Homo sapiens: one gene and its partners. The protein of the gene in region 1 interacts with the protein of each later gene in a pairwise test. Each region holds a gene or a part of one and is shown on either strand. Other genes may lie near its edges.

Region 1 (4,703 bases):
TGGCGTGAACCCGGGAGGCGGAGCTTGCAGTGAGCCGAGATCGCGCCACTGCACTCCAGCCTGTGTGACAGTGCAAGACTCTGTCTCAAAAAAAAAAGAAAATATTTTCCTTGCATGTGAACCCCATCTCTACTAAAAATACAAAAAAAATTAGCTGGGTGTGGTGGCAGGTGCCTGTTATCCTAGCTACTCCGGAGGCTGAGTCAGGAGAATTGCTTGAACCCAGGAGGCAGAGATTGCAAGTGAGTTGAGGTTGCACCATTGCACTCCAGCCTGGGCAGCAAGAGTGAAACTCCGTCTCAAAAAATAGCTACAGCATTCATTTTTGTTTTTGTTTTTGTTTTGAGACAGTCTCGCTCTGTCGCCCAGGCTGGAGTGTAGTGGTCCAATCTCGGCTCACGGCAACCTCTGCCTCCCAGGTTCAAGTGATTCTCCTGCCTCAGCCTCCCAAGTAGCCGGGATTACAGGCGCTTGCCACCACGCCTGGCTAATTTTATTTTTTAATAGAGACGGGGTTTCACCATGTTGGCCCGGCTGGTCTCAAACTCCTGACCTCAGGTAATCCGCCCACCTCGACCTCCCAAACTGCTGGGATTACAGGCGTGAGCCACCGCGCCCAGCCTACAGTATGTGATTTTGTTTCATCGATCATTTCACAGACTATGTATGAGATGAAATAGCTGTGGCCACATAGATAAGATATGGCAGTTTCTTATGATTTCAGTACTTCATATTTACCACCTTTTCAGGCAAGTTACTTTTTTTTTTGAAATGGAGTTTTGCTGTTGTTGCACAGGCTGGAGTGCAGGGGCATAATCTCAGCTCGCCGCAACCTCCGCCTCCCAGGCTCAAGCGATTCTCCCGCCTCAGCCTCCGAGTAGCTGGGATTACAGGCATGCGCCGCCACATCCGGCTAATTTTTGTGTTTTTAGTAGAGACGGGGTTTCTCCATGTTGGTCAGGCTGGCTTTGAACTCCCGACCTCAGGTGATCCGTCCGCCTCAGCCTCCCAAAGTGCTGGGATTACAGGCATGAGCCACTGTGCCCGGCCAGCAAGTTACTTTTTATCCATTATACAAGACCTCTTGGTTGCTAGAAGAATTTTTTTTTTTTTTGAGACAGAGTCTCGAGTCTTGCTCTGTCACCCAGGCTGGAGTGTAGTGGCATGATCTCAGCTCACCACAACCTCTACCTCCTGGGTTCAAGTGATTCTCCTGCCTCAGCCTCCTGAGTAGCTGGGATTACAGGCATGCGCCATGACGCAGGCCAATTTTTGTATTTTTCATAGAGACGGGGTTTCACCATGTTGGCCAGGGTGGTCTCAAACTCCTGACCTCAAGTGATCCACCTGACTCTGCCTCCCAAAGTGTTGGGATTACAGGCGTGAGCCACTGCGCCCGGCTGCTAGAAGAATCTCAGTGGCCAATTCTGTTTGGTGGAAGTCATTATAGCCTCCTGTGTATTTAGTGTTCCTGGGTTAATGTCCTTCTATTCATGGTAATTCATGAAATCTCAAAATAATCTCCAAACAACTTAGTCCTTGCTCTAACACCTATTCATTCTTGATGGTATATTCTGTATTGGCACGTTATCTTAACTCCCCAATCTTTTCCCTCTATATGCAAGCTATTGAATTAATCAGTGTGCTCTCATCAGCCCAGTTCAGGAAAAACACACTTCCTTTTTTGATAGTCTCACCCCTTGGAGTGACTCTTCTTCCTGGAGGCACTTTTCTAAAACAGTATCGATGGAAAAAAGTAAACAGATGGCTTCTTTTGCCTGAAAAACAGTAGTAAGTGGGTTATAATATATTTGTTTTTTAATCATGTCTTTATTTTTTAGCATGGGGCTTAACATTTTTCCTACTCTGAGTTATCCCAGATCAATAATAATTTCTATATATTATAAACCCTTATTTGCCAAAAGGTACTAGTACTATGTGCTAGTACCTTCCTTTCCATTTCATTGGTTTTTTTTTCTCATAGTCTGTCATGCTTGTTTCCTGACTTTTCTTGCTACCATAGTCTTTATCTTGCTTTTATTCATAGAGTTGACTGCTTTCTATTTGATATGTTCCAACTGCCATTTTTTTCTTCTCACCCTTGATCCAAATTTGATTTCTAATTATATAAGATAAACAAGAATGCCAAACTTACTGCCCTTTGACTAATTAGAACATGGAAATAATTTGAGTTTTAGAGAATAATAAAGTTTTTTTCTTCCATTTACAAAAGTAAGAAAACTTAAAAAAAAAAAAAGACTAGAAAAGAGAAAACAATCATGCCATAGTCTGCCACCTGAAGAAACCACCCTTGCTGTGTTCCTCCATCTGTCCTCCGTGCATGTGTGTTTGTATGTTTTGAGCTTGTGGTCACATTTGATAATGCTATGATGATTCCCATACATCTTTAGTAGACTTGGTTACAAATGCACTGTGTGGGACAGGTGCAGTGGCTCACGCCTGTAATCCCAACACTTTGGGAGGCCAAGGCAAGCAGACTGCTTGAGCTCAGGAGTTTGAGACCAGCCTGGGCAATGTCGGGAAACCCTGTCTCTACAAAAATACAAAAAATAGCTGGGCATGGTAGCACACACCTGTAGTCCCAGCTCTTCAGGAGGCTGAGGCAGAAGGATTGGGCGTGCCTTGGAGGTCAAGGCTGCAGTGAGCTGTGATGGTGCCACTGCACTCAGCCTGGGCAACTGAGTGAGACTCTGTCTCAAAAAAAAGAAAAAAAAAAGCATCATCTGATTTTAAATAGATCTTTATAGGTGTTAGGTGTTCAAAAGTATTTGTTAAATGAAATGATTGAATCCTTACTCCTCTCTGTGCCTCAGTTTTCCCATTTCTTAAATGGGGAAAAAATAATTTACAAGATGTTTTGTGAGGATCAGTGAAAAACAAACTGGGCATGTTGGAAATGGTTAGGTCATGTCAAAACTCTCCTTGCTGGCTGTCATATCGCTTTTTTCCCAGAGGCTACTACTTGAGAAGAGGCAAAGGAAAAAGCGCCTTGAGCCATTTATGGTGCAGCCCAATCCAGAAGCCAGGCTACGTCGGGCAAAGCCAAGGGCCAGTGATGAGCAGACTCCCTTGGTGAACTGTCATACTCCCCACAGCAATGTCATCTTACATGGTGTGTATTTAGGCAGCATCACTTCCTAGTGGGGTACAATTTTCACAAACCTAGAAGGCACGAGGATTGTCAGACGGACCAAAGGGACAATATTATTAGCACCATTACTAGGTACCTTCATAAATCTTTATAATCACATTTGGGGTCTTTGAGGAGAATAAAAGCAATGATATAATCAGTGGAAGATGCCTTAAGGTTTGCGTCCATTTTAGAACTGTTGTTTTCTTTTTTTTGAGACGGAGTTTTGCTTTTGTCGCCCAGGCTGGAGTGCAATGGCGCGATCTTGGCTCACTGCCAACCTCCTCCTCCCAGGTTCAAGTGATTCTCCTGCCTCAACTTCCCGAGTAGCTGGGTTTACAGGCGCCTGCCACCATGCCCGGCTAATTTTTTTATACTTTTAGTAGAGACGGGGTTTTACTATGTTGGCCAGGCTTGTCTCGAACTCCTGACCCAGGTGATCCACCCGCCTTGGCCTCCCAAAGTGCTGGGATTACAGGCTTGAGCCACCATGCCCGGCAAGAACTGTTGTTTTCTAGATGCCAGATGAATGAGTTTAGAATGACCTATTTGAGGAGCTCTTGATTGTTAAATCGTGGCAGAGGTGAATCATGAAGCCGGGAATAGGTAGAGAGCGTCCATTCTTCCAACAGATAGTTGAAAGGATCATCTGAGATGGGGAGGGGCGGAGGAAGAATAAGATTGTAAGTGCCTCTAAATCAAGCCACTGGAGCTATTGGCTTGTACAGGATCTGTACTATGGAGGACCTACTTTGTTTTCTTGGTCTCATTCTTAAGTTTCTGAAGTACATATTACTTCAGTTACTGAAGTACAAGTACATATGACTTTAGTAACAGAGCATGTTAATAAAATGAACACCAGGCTGGGCGTGGTGGCTTATACCTGTGATCCCAGCACTTTGGGAGGCCAGAAAGGCAGATCACTTAAGGCCAGGTGTTTGAGACTAGCCTGGGCAACATAACAAGACTCCATCTCTACAAAAAAATTAACAATTAGCCAGGTGTAGTAGCACACACCTGTAGTCCCAGCTACTCGGGGGACTGAAGTGGGAGGATCGTTTGAGCCTAGGAAGTCGAGGCTACAGTGAGCTGTGATTACACCACTGCTCTCCAGCCTGGGTGACAGAGTGAGATCCTGTCTCAGAAAAAAAGAACACCAGTTCTGACCTTCTCTCTTAACAAATGTTCTTATGGATGTTAAGAAAGGAGGGCAGATAAAATGATTTGGTAGTTCTTAATTCTGATCACATATGCCAAATCTACCCAACTAGTGAATAATACTTTGCTCCTTTTTTAAAATTCATTTTATTTTGGCCCTTAGGTATTGATGGTCCAGCTGCTGTCCTGAAACCAGACGAAGTTCATGCTCCATCAGTAAGCTCCTCTGTTGTGGAAGAAGATGCTGAAAACACCGTGGATACTGCTTCCAAGCCAGGACTTCAGGAGCGTCTCCAAAAGCATGGTGAGGACTGGTAATGATTTTAAGGCAATTTGTCTCCTTACTCAATTGTAATCTTTTCCTTTCTTTTCATTGTGGGTAACAATCTACATG
Region 2 (4,101 bases), on another chromosome or scaffold:
TCATTTGCATGGTATATGTATCATAAAAGCCCTATCATATGAATTATCTGTCATCTTACATTCCCTAACCAAAAACCTTAGACTTCATGAGAAATAATTTAGATTGTAATCTTCTTTTAATATAAAGAATAAAGATACTTTTGTTAACTGAGAAACTTTTTTCCCTTTCTTCACTGATACAATCTTCTTCAAATGATTCACATGGAAAAATGAACGAGGCTTTTAGAACACACTTAGTTTGCAATTGCTTCGCATTTTTTTGTTTTAAAATTCAAGTCAGGTTGGTCCTTAGTAGAAATATGGCAAGAAGATATGTTATTAGATGTCTAGGATGGTAATGGACTCTTCTAATCCCAGATTTCAAGAAAACATACAAAATACAATAAAGATATGTGTTACACTAATGTATACTCTCTAAAAAACAGAGAGAGAAAAATAGGGAAACATAAAAATTTTTAAAATACACCCAGGCTAAGTTGTAAGCTATGCTTACAGTGAATATTTTACTTTGGACTTTTGTTATATCCCCACTTTTTGGAACCTGTCACACACTTCTGTTAATTCCCATACAATTCAACAATCGAAACTTCTGTTAAAAAAAAAAAACCTAAATAATAGTAAGAATAATAAAATAACAATGACGATATCTTCCTAAGACAAGAAGGCTTATTCATGATCAATTGTGGAATTCCACTTTCTTCTAAAGTGGTGGCATACCACCAGACTGGACCTATAAAAGACGATTAAGGGAGTTCTACACATGGAAACAAAAGAATAAAACTTGCTACCACAAAAGCATACTTAAGCACATAGTCTATGTTCTTCATAAAGCAACTATACAATTGAGACTAGGAGGCAACTAGCTAACAACACGACAACAGGAACAAAACTTCACATTTCTATATTAACCCTGAAAAAGGTTAATAAAAGATGATTAAGAGAGTTCTAAACATGAAAACAAAAAAATAATACTTGCTGTCACAAAAGCATACATAAGCACATAGTCTATAGACTCCATAAAAGCAACTACACAATCAAGGCTACAAAGCAACTAGCTAACATGAAACAGGAGCTCAACTTCACATATCAATATTAACCCTGAAAATAAACAGCCTAAACACAGCACTCAAAAGACATAGAGTGGGAAATCGGATTAAAAAAAAAGAAGACTTGTCCTTCTGCTGTCTTCAAGATACCTATTGCACAGGTAATGACACCCATAGGCTCAAAGTAAAAGGCTGGAGAGAGATCTATCATGCAAATGGAAAACAAAAAGGAGCAGATGATCACTATTAAACATACTTTAAGCCAACAACAGTCAAGAGGGACAAAGTAGGGCATTACATAATGATAAAGTGTTCAATTCAACAAGAAGACTTAACTATCCTAAATATACACACACCCAACACTGGAGCACCCAAATTTATAAAGCAATTACTACTAGACTTACAAAAAGATGTAGATAGTCACACAATAATAGTGGGTGACTTCAACACCCCACTGAAAGCATTAGACAGATCAAGGCAGAAAACTAACAGAGAAATTTTGGACTTAAATACAGCACTTGACCAGTTAGACTTAATAGGCATCTAAAGAATACTCCACCCAACAACCACAGAATATAAATGCTATTCTCATTTGCACATGGAACATACTCAAAGATTGACCATGGTCATAAAGCAAGTCTCAACAAATTCAAAAAAATCAAAATCACACCAAGAATCTCTTGGACCACCGTGGAGTAAAAATAGAAATCAATACCAAGAAGAGCTCTTGAAAACCACACAAATACATGCAAACTAGAAAACTTGCTCCAGAATGACTTTTGGGTAAACAATGAAATTAAGGCAGAATTCAAAAAAAATCCTTTGAAACAAATGAAAATAGAGACACAATATACCAAAACCTCTGGGATGTAGCAAAAGCAGTGTTAAGAGTAAAGTACAAAACGCCTGTATCAAGAAGACAGGGAGGTCTCAACAACCTAACATTGCACCTAAGGGAACTAGAAAAATAAGAACAGACACTCCTCAAAAGAAGACATTTATGCAGCCAAAAAACACATGAAAAAATGCTCACCATCACTGGCTATCAGAGAAATGCAAATCAAAACCACAATGAGATACCATCTCACACCTGTTAGAATGGCGATCATTAAAATGTCAGGAAACAACAGGTGCTGGAGAGGATGTGGAGAAACAGGAACACTTTTACACTGTTGGTGGGACTGTAAACTAGTTCAACCATTGTGGAAGTCAGTGTGGCGATTCCTCAGGGATCTAGAACTAGAAATACCATTTGACCCAGCCATCCCATTAATGGGTATATACCCAAAGGACTATAAATCATGCTGCTATAAAGACACATGCACACATATGTTTATTGCAGCACTATTCACAATAGCAAAGACTTGGAACCAACCCAAATGTCTGACAATGATAGACTGGATTAAGAAAATGTGGCACATACACACCATGGAATACTATGCAGCCATAAAAAATGATGAGTTCATGTCCTTTGTAGGGACATGGATGAAATTGGAAATCATCATTCTCAGTAAACTATCGCAAGGACAAAAAACCAAACACCGCATATTCTCACTCATAGGTGGGAATTGAACAATGAGAACACATGGACACAGGAAGGGGAACATCACACTCTGGGGACTGTTGTGGGGCGGGAGGAGAGGGGAGGGATAGCTTTAGGAGATATACCTAATGCTAAACGACGAGTTAATGGGTGCAGCACACCATCATGGCACATGTATACATATGTAACTAACCTGCACATTGTGCACAAGTACCCTAAAACTTAAAGTATAATAAAAGAAACAAAATAAAAAATAAAAATAAATAAATAAAAACACGTTAAAAAAATAAATAAGAACAAACTAAACCCAAAGCTAGTCAAAAAAATAACTAAAATTGGAGTACAACTATATGAAACTGAAACCAAAAAAGGCATTCAAAGGATCAGCAAAATGAAAAGATGGTTCTTTGAAACAATAAGATTGACAGACTGCTAGCTAAAGAAAAAAGAAAGATCCAAATAAGCACAATTGGAAATGATAAATATGACATTACAACAATCCCACAGAAATGTAAAAGATCCTCAGCAACTACTGTGAATACCTCTATTCACATAAACTAGAAAATCTAGAGGAAATCTAGAAAATCTAGGAATCTAAATTCCTAGAAACACACAACCTTCCAAGAACCAGGAAGAAAGTGAAACCCTGAACACACCAATAATTAGTTACAAAATTGAATCAGTAATAAAAAACCTACCATCCAGAAAAAGCCCTGGACCGAATGGATTCACAGCCAAATTCTACCAAACATACGAGGAGGAGCTGATAACAATCCTACCAAAATGATATGAAAAAACCAAGGAGGAGGGATTTCTCCCTAATTCATTCTATGAAAGCAGTATCATCTTGATACCAAAATCTGGCAAAGACACAACAAAAAAGAAAACTACAGGCCAATATCCCTGATAAACACAGACACAGAAAACCTCAAGTTACTAGCAAACCAAATTCAGCAGCATACCAAAAAGATAATTCACCGTGATCAAGTCATGCAAGGAGGTTCAACGTATGCAAGTCAATAAACGTGATTCACCACATAAACAAAATTAAAAACTGTAGGATCATCTCAATAGACACAGAAAAAGCAATCAATAAATTCCAACACCCCTTCATGATAAAAAAAAAAAACCTTCAACAAATTAGGCATTGAAGGAACATACCTCAAAATACTAAGAGCCATCTATGACAAACCCACAGCCAACATCATACTGAACGGGCAAGTTGGAAACATTCCTCCTGAGAATTGGAACAAAACAAGAATGTCCACTGTCACTACGCCTATTCAACATAGTACTGGAAGTCCTAGCCAGAGTAATTAGGCAAGAAAAAGAAATAAAAGGCACCCAAATAGGAAAAGAGGAGGTCAAATTACCTCTCTTCACCAACAATATGGTTCGATATGTAGAAAATTCTAAAGGTTCTGCCAAAAAAAACCTCCTAGACCTGATAAACAACTTCAGTAAAGTTTCAGGACACAAAATCAATATACGAAAATCAGTAGCATTTCTATA
Region 3 (4,771 bases), on another chromosome or scaffold:
CGGTGGCTCACACCTGTAATCCCAGCACTTTGGGAGGCCAAGGTGGGAGGATCACAATGTCAAGAGATCGAGACCATCCTGGCCAACATGGTGAAACCCCATCTCTACTAAAAATATAAAAATTAGCTGGGCATGGTGGCATGCACCTGTAGTCCCAGCTACTTGGGAGGCTGAGGAAGAAGAATTGCTTGAACCCAGGAGGCGGAGGTTGCAGTGAGCTGAGATCATGCCACTGCTCTCCAGCCTGGTGACAGAGCGAGGCTCCGTCTCAAAAAAAACCCAAAAATTAGCTAGGTGTGGTGGCACTGGCCTGTAGTCCAGCTAATCAGGAGGCCGAGGTGGGAGCCTGCAAGGTCAAGGCACAGTGTGAGATGTGATCATGCCACTGCACTCCAGCCTGGGTGACAGAGTGAGACCCTGTCTCAATTAAAAAAGAAAGAGGCCAAGGTGGGCGGATCACGAGGTCAGGAGATCGAGACCATCTTGGCTAACACGGTGAAACCCCGCCTCTACTAAAAATACAAAAAATTAGCCGGGTGTGGTGGTGGGCACCTGTGGTCCCACTACTCGGGAGGCTGAGGCAGGAGAATCGCTTGAACCCAGGAGGCGGAGCTTGCAGTGAGCCGAGATCGCGCCACTGCACTACAGCCTGGGCAACAAAGCGAGACTCCGTCTCAAAAAAAAAAAAGAAAAAGAAAAAAAAAAAAAGAAAGACGTTGGGCATGGTGGCTCACGCCTGTAATCCCAGCAGTGTGGGAGGCCGAGGCGGGTGGACACTTGAGGTCGGAGTTTGAGACCAGCCTGGCCAATACGGTGAAATCCCATCTCTACAAAAAAAAATACGAAAATCAGCTGGGCGTGGTGGCAGGCGCCTGTAATCCCAGCTACTCAGGAGGCTGAGTCACAAGAATTGCCTGAACCCGGAAGGCAGAGGTCGCAGTGAGCTGGGAGCAAACCACTGTACTCCAGCCTGGGCGATAGGGCGAGACTCCGTCTCAAATAAATAAATAAATGAAAAGGAAAGAAAGGAAAGAAAAGAAAGGAAGGAAAGAAAGGAAAGGAAAGGAAGGAAAGGAAGGAAGGAAGGAAGGAAAGAAGTCCTGACTAAAAAGTTTTGAGAATCCTTCCATTTTTCAAAACCCTCCTCAAATCTTCACCTCCTCCATGTAGGCTTCTGTAATCACTTTGGTTTTCCAAAAGGTTAGAGAAAAAAAGGATTAATGATAGTACTTTCAGCCTGTTTCTAATTGTTTTGCCTTTCAAAACACTGTCCTCCCAATAGAGCGTCTATAAATCCCAGAAGCATTTTTGTTGCACAATGAAAATGGAATTTTATAGTTCTGATGATGTACACTTAAATAAAAATATGACTGTTAAATAGTTTATTACTGAATTAGTTTGTAAGTGAAATTTGTTCTGAGATTAGGATGTATTCTGAATAGAGTCTGTCTCATTTGACATTTTTACCAGCCTCTGCCAATGCTTAACTGAAGGACTTTAACATACAGGGTATATATTCATAATACTAGTCTGTCTACTGATTTCATCCTTTTATGTCTGCTAATCTTGACCTTGTAAACAAGGTCTCAAGGAAAAATACACAAAATAACATGCAGACTTAACCACATTTGCCAACGCAGTATCTCAGATTCTTCCAACAGCTGTACGAGAACTTTTACAAAATTAACTTTTGGTTACTTAATAGCTAATTATTGACCCCTTTTCCTGTTAAGGCCTAGCCTGAAGATCTAATAAGACCTTTTAAATGGGAACAAATATTCTGTGTTAGCATGTAAAGAACAACTATGAAGCTAAAAAAGCTAGACTCCTTTACGACCTTAATTTGTGGAACAAAAAATCCCAATGGAAGCACTCTGCTCTCAAGCAGACCCTCCATAAAGTGGCAGAAAAGTGTTTTCATCCATATAATCAAAGTATCATGAAAAGGACCTGCCTGGAAACCAGAAAGCAAATGTGAAATAAAGGTCTTTAGTTTGCCACTCTATGAAAAAGTTTAAACGTCAAAGCTTAGGCAGATAATGAAATTCATAAGCACTTTACAGTCCGTGGTGCGCACTTGAATTTCAGCGTCGAGGGAGGAGGGTGCGCCTGGGTTTTATCTTTTACTGCTTCAAAAACAAGACATTTCCAAACTGGGATAACCACACTTATCAAATTAAGTAAACAGCTTCCTAAACCAACTTTCTGTCTGGCTAGCTGTGTATTCGGCTGACTCACTTGGCCAGTGAAAAACAAGATCGTGCTTGTTTCCCCTCCAGTATCATCAGGGTGTGTAAGCCAGTCCTGCTCAAATACATGCTACGGTGATACAGAAAGTACGCTGAAGAAATAGAGAGCCCTAACCACTCAAGGTGGCCTTTGGGAGATCCAGCCGCCCTCCGCCCCTCTTTCCGCTCCCTCCATCCCCATCCCGGCACCCCCGCGGCCAGTGCCCCCTTGCCGAGGTCCGCGGGGTCCCGCCCCAGAACTTCCCGAATCGCCCACGAAGCCGCCCTCTCCGAGCTTTCCGAGAGATCCAGCCCGTGTGACCAAGGCTAGTACTCCAGTCTCGTCTGCCACTTACCTTGCTGGGTCCCCAGGCCGCTGCCGTCCCGGGCTCAGGCGATGCCACTCCTACCAGATCCATTCGGGAATGAAGGCAGAGACAAGAACAGAGCAGAGAGGTGGCAGGACGGGCAGCAGGCTCCGCCGAGGAGACAGGCGGGACACGGGCGACTGGCTGCTGATGCCGGAGTGGAGGTGACAGATGGCGGCGACGGCGGCGGCCGCGTCCGGAACTGGATCTCTCCTCTTCCGCCCTCTTCGCTAGGACAGTCGCTTGCAATTGGCCGCACGCCCCTAGCTCCTCCTTAAGGCACCTTTCCCCGCCCCCGGGCGGGCTACTTCCGGCTGCTGACCGCCGGGCTCGGAGAAGCAAGCATCAGCTGGCTGTCGCTTGGGGTCACGTTGCCTGTGTCGGGCAGGGCAGGGCAAGAACTGGGTGTGGCTTCCTTTGGCCCAGGCTCTGCCCTGTCCCCGCACTGCCATCTCCTTCTTTCCTCCTTGGCACCCCAAAAATTGCCGCTGGATCTAAACTAGATTAGACTAGTGGATTGTAAATAAATAAACAAACTAGGCTCTCTCTGTTCATTCATTATTTCCTGGAGCAGTTCTAAACTGGGATGACTTGGGAGACAGAAAACGGCAGGTTTATAGAGGGAAAGGGCCTGGAAAGGACGGTCGGAGTTTGTGGTGGTTGTTGTTGAAGGGCGGGGCGTGGAATGCGGAAAATGTGTAAAATGTGTTACGTAACAGTGAACAAAAATAAGACTGCATAATAAAACTTTTGTTTCTGTATTTTGTAGAGATTCTAATAAAATGACCAGATAAAAGATAACTAAACATTGCATTTCACTTAGTATATCAATGCACTGTTCAAATCTTTCATTAACTTTTTAGTCCTCAAAATTACCGTGAGAGCTAAATTCTGTCATTATCTCTATTTTACTGATATTGAAACTGAGGCACAGAGAGGTAAAGTAATTTAGTTGAGGTCACACAGATAACAAGTGGCAAAGCTAATAAGGGGTGAACCCAGACAATCGGTTTGGGAACTGGACTGGCTGTACATTATATTTTGACTATAAACTATACACTGTCTATATGTTGTATATTCAAACATTCTAGAAATAGGTACTGAATAACTGTTTTCCCTAAATCTCAGTTCCGAGTCAGTATCTCTAACTGTCCATACTTGAGAGCCCTGGGTTACTGATCTTAATGATTTCCATTAGCACACAATCTTTGCCTCCTTTCCATTCCAGGTGAAAACATGTTCTGAATCCTCCAAATACCCCTACTGCAATAAGGCAAACTATAGCCATATGATAGGGTGCAGATGTGTGCTTGGCAAATGTTGCCTATATATGTGAATGTGTGTGGAAATTGTGTTCCTTCCTAGTGTTCAAAGGATTATAATTGGACGATAAATAGTTTAAGAAAAATGGGTGTAACTATTAATAGAAATGGACTTCTCAATTCTGGCTAGGAAAAAATAGGAGAGGGCTGGGCGTGGTGGGTCATGCCTGTAATCCCAGCACTTTGGGAGGCCAAGGTGGGTGGATCACCTGAGGTCAGGAGTTTGAGACCAGCCTGGCCAACACGGTGAAACCCCATCTCTACTAAAAATACAAAAAGCAGCCGGGTGTGGTGACACGCACTTGTAATCCCAGCTACTCAGGAGGCTGAGGCAGGAGAATCACTTGACCTCGGGAGGCCGAGGTTGCAATTAGCCAAGATCATGCCACTGCACTCCAACCTGGGCAACAGAGTGAGACTCCGTCTCAAAAAAAAAAAAGAGAAAAAAGATTAAAAGGAAAAGACCAGACCAGAAAGAAAGGCTAAGGCTGAGATGCAGTGTATGACAAAAATGTGCCAGTGAGAGACTATTTGGGGGATATATCAGAAAAGGACAGGAAGTCGAAAATAAAACTAAGAATCTGAATATTCTTTTTGTTTTGTTTTGAATGTAAAGGAGAGAGGTCAGATCTTTTTTTTTTTAACTTTTTTCTTTTCTTTTCTTTTCTTTTCTTTTCTTTTCTTTTCTTTTCTTTTGAAATAGAGTCTCGCTCTGTCGCCAGGCTGGAGTGCAGTGGCATGATCAAGGCTCACTGCAACCTCCACCTCGTGGGTTCAAGCGATTCTTCTGCCTCAGCCTTCCGAGTAGGTGGGACTATAGGCGCGTGCCACTGCACCCGGCTAATTTTTGTAT
Region 4 (4,777 bases), on another chromosome or scaffold:
GGAGAAGTCCTTCCGTTAAGTATTTCTTCAGAGAAAGCATTGCTGAAGGACCAGAATGTTTATGCTTTTTGGTTTTTAAAATCTTCCAAAAGACAAATCAAGGCCACTGCTCTGCCGCTCCAGCCAGCAGGTTACCCTCCTCAGTGTCAAACCCCGTACCCCACCCTGGCAGAACACAAGGGATGAGCTCCCTGACGGCCCCAGAGGAAAGCACACCCTGTGGAGCCAAGGCCAAGGACACACTCCAGACCACATTCACTTTCCCTTCTCGACACCTCACCTCTGAAAGTACAACTGTTCCTAACCCAGTCCAGGTCCTCAAGGGCCCACGTGACTTACTTTCTCCACAGTCCACATACAGTCACTTCCTCACTCACATTAGTTGTCCTCTCTGTAGATTCCAATGCAGGCTGTTCTCAGGAACAGCTGATGGATTTTTTTTTTCCTTCTCCCTCCTAAGGTTTATTTTCTTTGGCTGGAGCTACAGGCCTTTCGTCTTGGGTCAGAGTGTCCCGCCTCCTCCACACTTACCAGGGGGGTTTCCAGAGAAACCTGAAATGGGAATCACAAAAGCAACAGGATAAGATTCCATACTTTTCACATCATGATCAGGGTAGGAAAACCTTCACAGTAGAAGGTAGAAAACACATTCAAAGGACACTTTCACTTTTTTTTTTTTTGAGACAGAGTCTCACTCTGTCGCCCAGGCTAGAGTGCAGTGGCGTGATCTGTGCTCACTGCAACCTCCACCTTCTGCATTCAAGCGATTCTCCTGCCTCAGCCTCCCAAGTATCTGGGATTACAGGCGCCTGCCACCACGCCCTGCTAATTTTTGTATTTTTAGTAGAGATGGGGTTTCACTATGTTGGCCAGGCTGGTCTCAAGCTCCTGACCTCAGGTGATCTGCCCGCCTCGGCCCCCCAAAGTGCTGGGATCACAGGCGTGAGCCACTGTGCCTGGCCTAAAGGCCACTTTTACAGGAAGAAAGGACTACTTACACTCTCAGAAAAAAAACCCAAAATATAGCAACCGATCATAGAAGAACTATCAAAGAAAGCTACTGATCACGAATGATCTCAGTTACTGAATATTAAATGTGCAATATCCTAAAATGTAGCTTGGTTTGAATAAGCAGACAATAACCAGGTCATCCAAAATATCTTACACCTTTGTTTTATTTACCAGCCCTCCTCCCCCACTACAGGCGCATTACCCAGCTTCTATTTTCACATGAGAAGCCCATTTCCTGTCTTAAAAGTAAAGCTGGATTTTCACCCCTCGGGAGAAAACCACCCATAACAGTTGTCTTTTCTCAGTTCAAAAAGGCAAGATTATTAAACAGTGAGAGTGTGGAAGGACAAAAGGACAATGTTCAGGCCACCACTTCACCCAGAAGAAGAATGCCTTTTGTTTTCTGAACTTTGAAATCTGATTTCCCTTTCCTATCCTCACAACTTACAAAAGAAAAAAAAGGAAAAGGGCCGACGCCTGTAATCCCAGCACTTCGGGAGGCCGAGGAGGGCGGATCACCCGAGGTCGGGAGTTTGAGACCAGCCTGAACAACATGGAGAAACCCCATCTCAACTAAAAATACAAAAATTAGCCGGGCGTGGTGGCGCATGCCTGTAATCCCAGCTACTCGGGAGGCTGAGACAGGAGAATCGCTTGAACCCAGGAAACGGAGGTTGTGGTGGGCCGATATCGCGCCACTGCACTCCAGCCTGGGCAACAAGAGCAAAACTCCGTCTCAAAAAAAGAAAAAAAAGAAAGAAAAGAAAAGGAAAGAAAAAAAGGAGAGGGATGGTGGGGGCCCTACTACGCAGGACTATTCCGTCCAGAATTTGCATAGGCAGGTTTTATTTTCATTCATATGACCTTCTGAGCCAAAGCAGAAGGATATGGCCACGTTCTCTAGCCAGACTGCCCAGTGCAGAGGAAGTAAATCTGTTTCTGGTCTCCACTTTTGAGCTTCCATTAATGTCACAAACCAAGACATACCGCCTCTCCTCTCCTGCGTTGTGACCCATCTACCAACTTCATTCTACAGGGGGAGAGCGAGCTATACGTACACACACGAACGTGCGCACACACACACACTCACACTCCCTCTCTCTGGTCAGAGTAAACACAATTGCGACCCAGAATTCCTGCTTACGCTACCCTCCCGTTCTCACGCAATTTATTACTAAAACCTCCCAGGAGCCAATTAAGTTCGAGGAACCGGACAAAGTCCCTTAAAAATCAAGTAGGTGCAGGGCCCATAGCCTGAGGCTGGTCCCACCCTGCCCGGATACCCGAGTCCGGCTGAGACCAAGTCGCCATGCCCACTCTCGGCGCCGGAGCTTCTAGCCTCCAGGGGCGGCCAGCGAACAAGTGCTACTTCCCTGGCCTTGACCCACCCTTACAGCAAACCCCACCCCGCCCTCCGTCCCGATGGCCCCACCCCACTCCCAAGTCCAGGCCTCACACCACGCCTTCTCGTGCCCTCAACCCTGCCCAGTCCATCCCACCCCGGAGCCAGCTTTCCTCTCGGCCCCGCGCGGGGCCCCTCCCTGTCAGGCCCAGGGCCGGGCTCTGGCGGGAACCCCGCTCGGCCCCCGCCTCCTGCACCTCAGCACCATCCCGTCGCCCCATAAGCCTCGGCCCCGCGGCGCTGCAACCCTCCCTTCTGGGAAAGGAATGTGCCCGATACCCACTGCTTAGCTCGGCGTCCGCCGCTGCCTCCACAGCAGGCCCTAAGCCCGAGTCCCGGCCTCGCCGCCGCCACCGCCGGCCGGCCTAGAGCTCGGAGCCTCCGCTTACCTCCCCGCCCCCTCCTGCTACCGCACTCGGAAACCCGCCCGCCGCAAACACCCTAGGAACAGTTTCTCCAATCAACGAGCCGAGGCCGGGGCCGTCGACGGATGTCCCTCTGATTGGCAGCAGAGAGGGCCCAATGGCTGAGTGTACCTCCTCATCCCCGGACCTGATTTCCCAAGACTGACATAATTCCCGGCCCAATGAGTACCTAGGCCCGCCCCGCGGTATGGACCCACCAATGAGGAGGGCGAAGGCCCTAGTGTCTGGCATTCTGGGCCCCTCGGCCGCGCCTTCGCGGCGGGCGATGTTAGTGGGCTTGGGCGTTGGGTGAAGTATCCAGGTTGGGCGCTTCCAGCGCTTTCTGTGGCGGGGGAATGAAGGCCTAGGTCAGGGAATAGGAAGGTGTATCGCCGCCAGAGTGCGGAACACCCTCGCCTTGAGGGTTCCCACAGTGACTTGCAAAAGTCTAGTGAGACCCGAGAATGCTGAGGCGGGACACGAAGCATGTGGTTCTTGTGGTTGCGACGCTCGTGCCGCCATCTTGGGTGCTGGCGGCGGAAACCGGTACCCCAACTTCCCCTCGGTGCGAACCTGGAGAAGCCACCCCAGCTGTGAGGGACGGTTGCGCCTCATGGCCCAGGCAAGGGTACCTTCGCTGGAGCAGTACCGCGGACGGATATCATGAGGGTGGTGGGACGTTGGCGGAACGTTGGCGGAACGTTGGCGGTGTGAGAGGTGTGGGGTAATGGCGATTTTTGTCATGGTAGAAACAGCCCAAAGGACCCCCCTCGTTTGGCCTCCCACGCAGCTTAGTCTTGCTTTTTTAGGGATGTTTCTCATTTTTTAATTTCTCCAGTCCCATCTGGTTATATTGCCAAAACATGTTTGTGACTCTCAAACGTTAGTTTACTCCCAGCATCACTTGGGGAGCTTGCTAAGCTACGAATTCCGAGGTCCCACTGGAGAGTCTGATTTAATGACCCTGGAGTGGCGGCCGGATAACCTGCCTGCTGGGGTGATTTTAACGCAGCTGATGCGAAGACCCCATTTAGGGAATCATTGGGTTGGCGTTTGCAATGCGTTCCTCCCAGCTATAGGACAAAGAGGTGTCAACTCAACTGTGTCTTCTTAGAAGAGCCCATTATTTATAGGTGAGTCATTAGTCCCTGTACAACTAAGGACAAGGCCAACTGATAACTCAGTAAATAATCGAGTCCATTTTGTGCTTGCGAGTTAGGGGCTTAATTTGGGGTGGTTTGCAGATTAAGTACTTTCACTGCATATAATAAACGTACACCAGCAAACCACTCATGGAATTCTTAAAAAAACTTCTGAGCTAGTTTACCAGTTTCAAAGACTAATTCAGAGAGCATGTTTTACCTATTCTAGGCTGGACTGGAACTCCTGGACTCAAGCGATCTTTCCATTTATCAGGGACTACTGACGCGTGTCTCCCAATAAATACCTGAGTATAAACAACATGAGGACTAGAATTTTGTGCGTTAACTGTTATAACTTAGTAGACACTCAAATACTGAGTACTTGAAGGGGGACTCAAGCAGGCAGGCCTCTGATTTTCCTGTTAAAAGCAGAAATTAACCACACCTTGGAGGATGTACAGTTTTGAAGGATATGGCATGTTAACAATAAAATAGGAGACCATTCAGTCCCCGAAGTAGTGAGACAATGAAGATAAAGACTGGTATTGTATAAGAAAGGAGGAATATTTAGGTGTGGCCATCAACTCTAAAAATAAATAAGGTTGAGAAGGAAGTATTTTAAACATAGAACTGGGCCCGGCGCAGTGGCTCACAGTAGCACCTTGGGAGGCCGAGGCGGGAGGATTGCTTGACCAGCCTGGGCAGCATAGTGAGACCCCCGTCGCTACAAAAAAACAAGCTGGGCTTGGTGCCACACATCTATAGTCCCAACTACTCAGGAGGCTGAGGTGGGAGGATTTCTTGAGCTGGGAGATTGA

Evidence for each region. The genes of interacting proteins can lie anywhere in the genome.
Region 2: the proteins of TULP3 (region 1) and CLIP4 interact in a two-hybrid assay, tested with the Homo sapiens proteins (one large-scale study listed by BioGRID and IntAct).
Region 3: the proteins of TULP3 (region 1) and RIOK3 interact in a two-hybrid assay, tested with the Homo sapiens proteins (one large-scale study listed by BioGRID and IntAct).
Region 4: the proteins of TULP3 (region 1) and NFE2L1 interact in a two-hybrid assay, tested with the Homo sapiens proteins (one large-scale study listed by BioGRID and IntAct).

The regions. Positions count from the first base shown.
Region 1 is NC_000012.12:2,917,790-2,922,492, forward strand, and holds part of TULP3 (tubby-related protein 3), read left to right. Parts: intron 1-2,973; coding exon 2,974-3,133; intron 3,134-4,472; coding exon 4,473-4,613; intron 4,614-4,703. UniProt on the Homo sapiens protein: Negative regulator of the Shh signaling transduction pathway: recruited to primary cilia via association with the IFT complex A (IFT-A) and is required for recruitment of G protein-coupled receptor GPR161 to cilia, a promoter of PKA-dependent basal repression machinery in Shh signaling.
Region 2 is NC_000002.12:29,138,814-29,142,914, reverse strand, and holds part of CLIP4 (CAP-Gly domain-containing linker protein 4), read right to left. Parts: intron 1-4,101.
Region 3 is NC_000018.10:23,451,316-23,456,086, reverse strand, and holds the start of RIOK3 (serine/threonine-protein kinase RIO3), read right to left. Parts: upstream 2,801-4,771; 5' UTR 2,648-2,800; coding exon 2,585-2,647; intron 1-2,584.
Region 4 is NC_000017.11:48,046,382-48,051,158, reverse strand, and holds the start of NFE2L1 (endoplasmic reticulum membrane sensor NFE2L1), read right to left. Parts: upstream 2,801-4,777; 5' UTR 2,697-2,800; intron 2,379-2,696; exon of another isoform or gene 2,295-2,378; intron 553-2,294; 5' UTR 41-552; coding exon 1-40.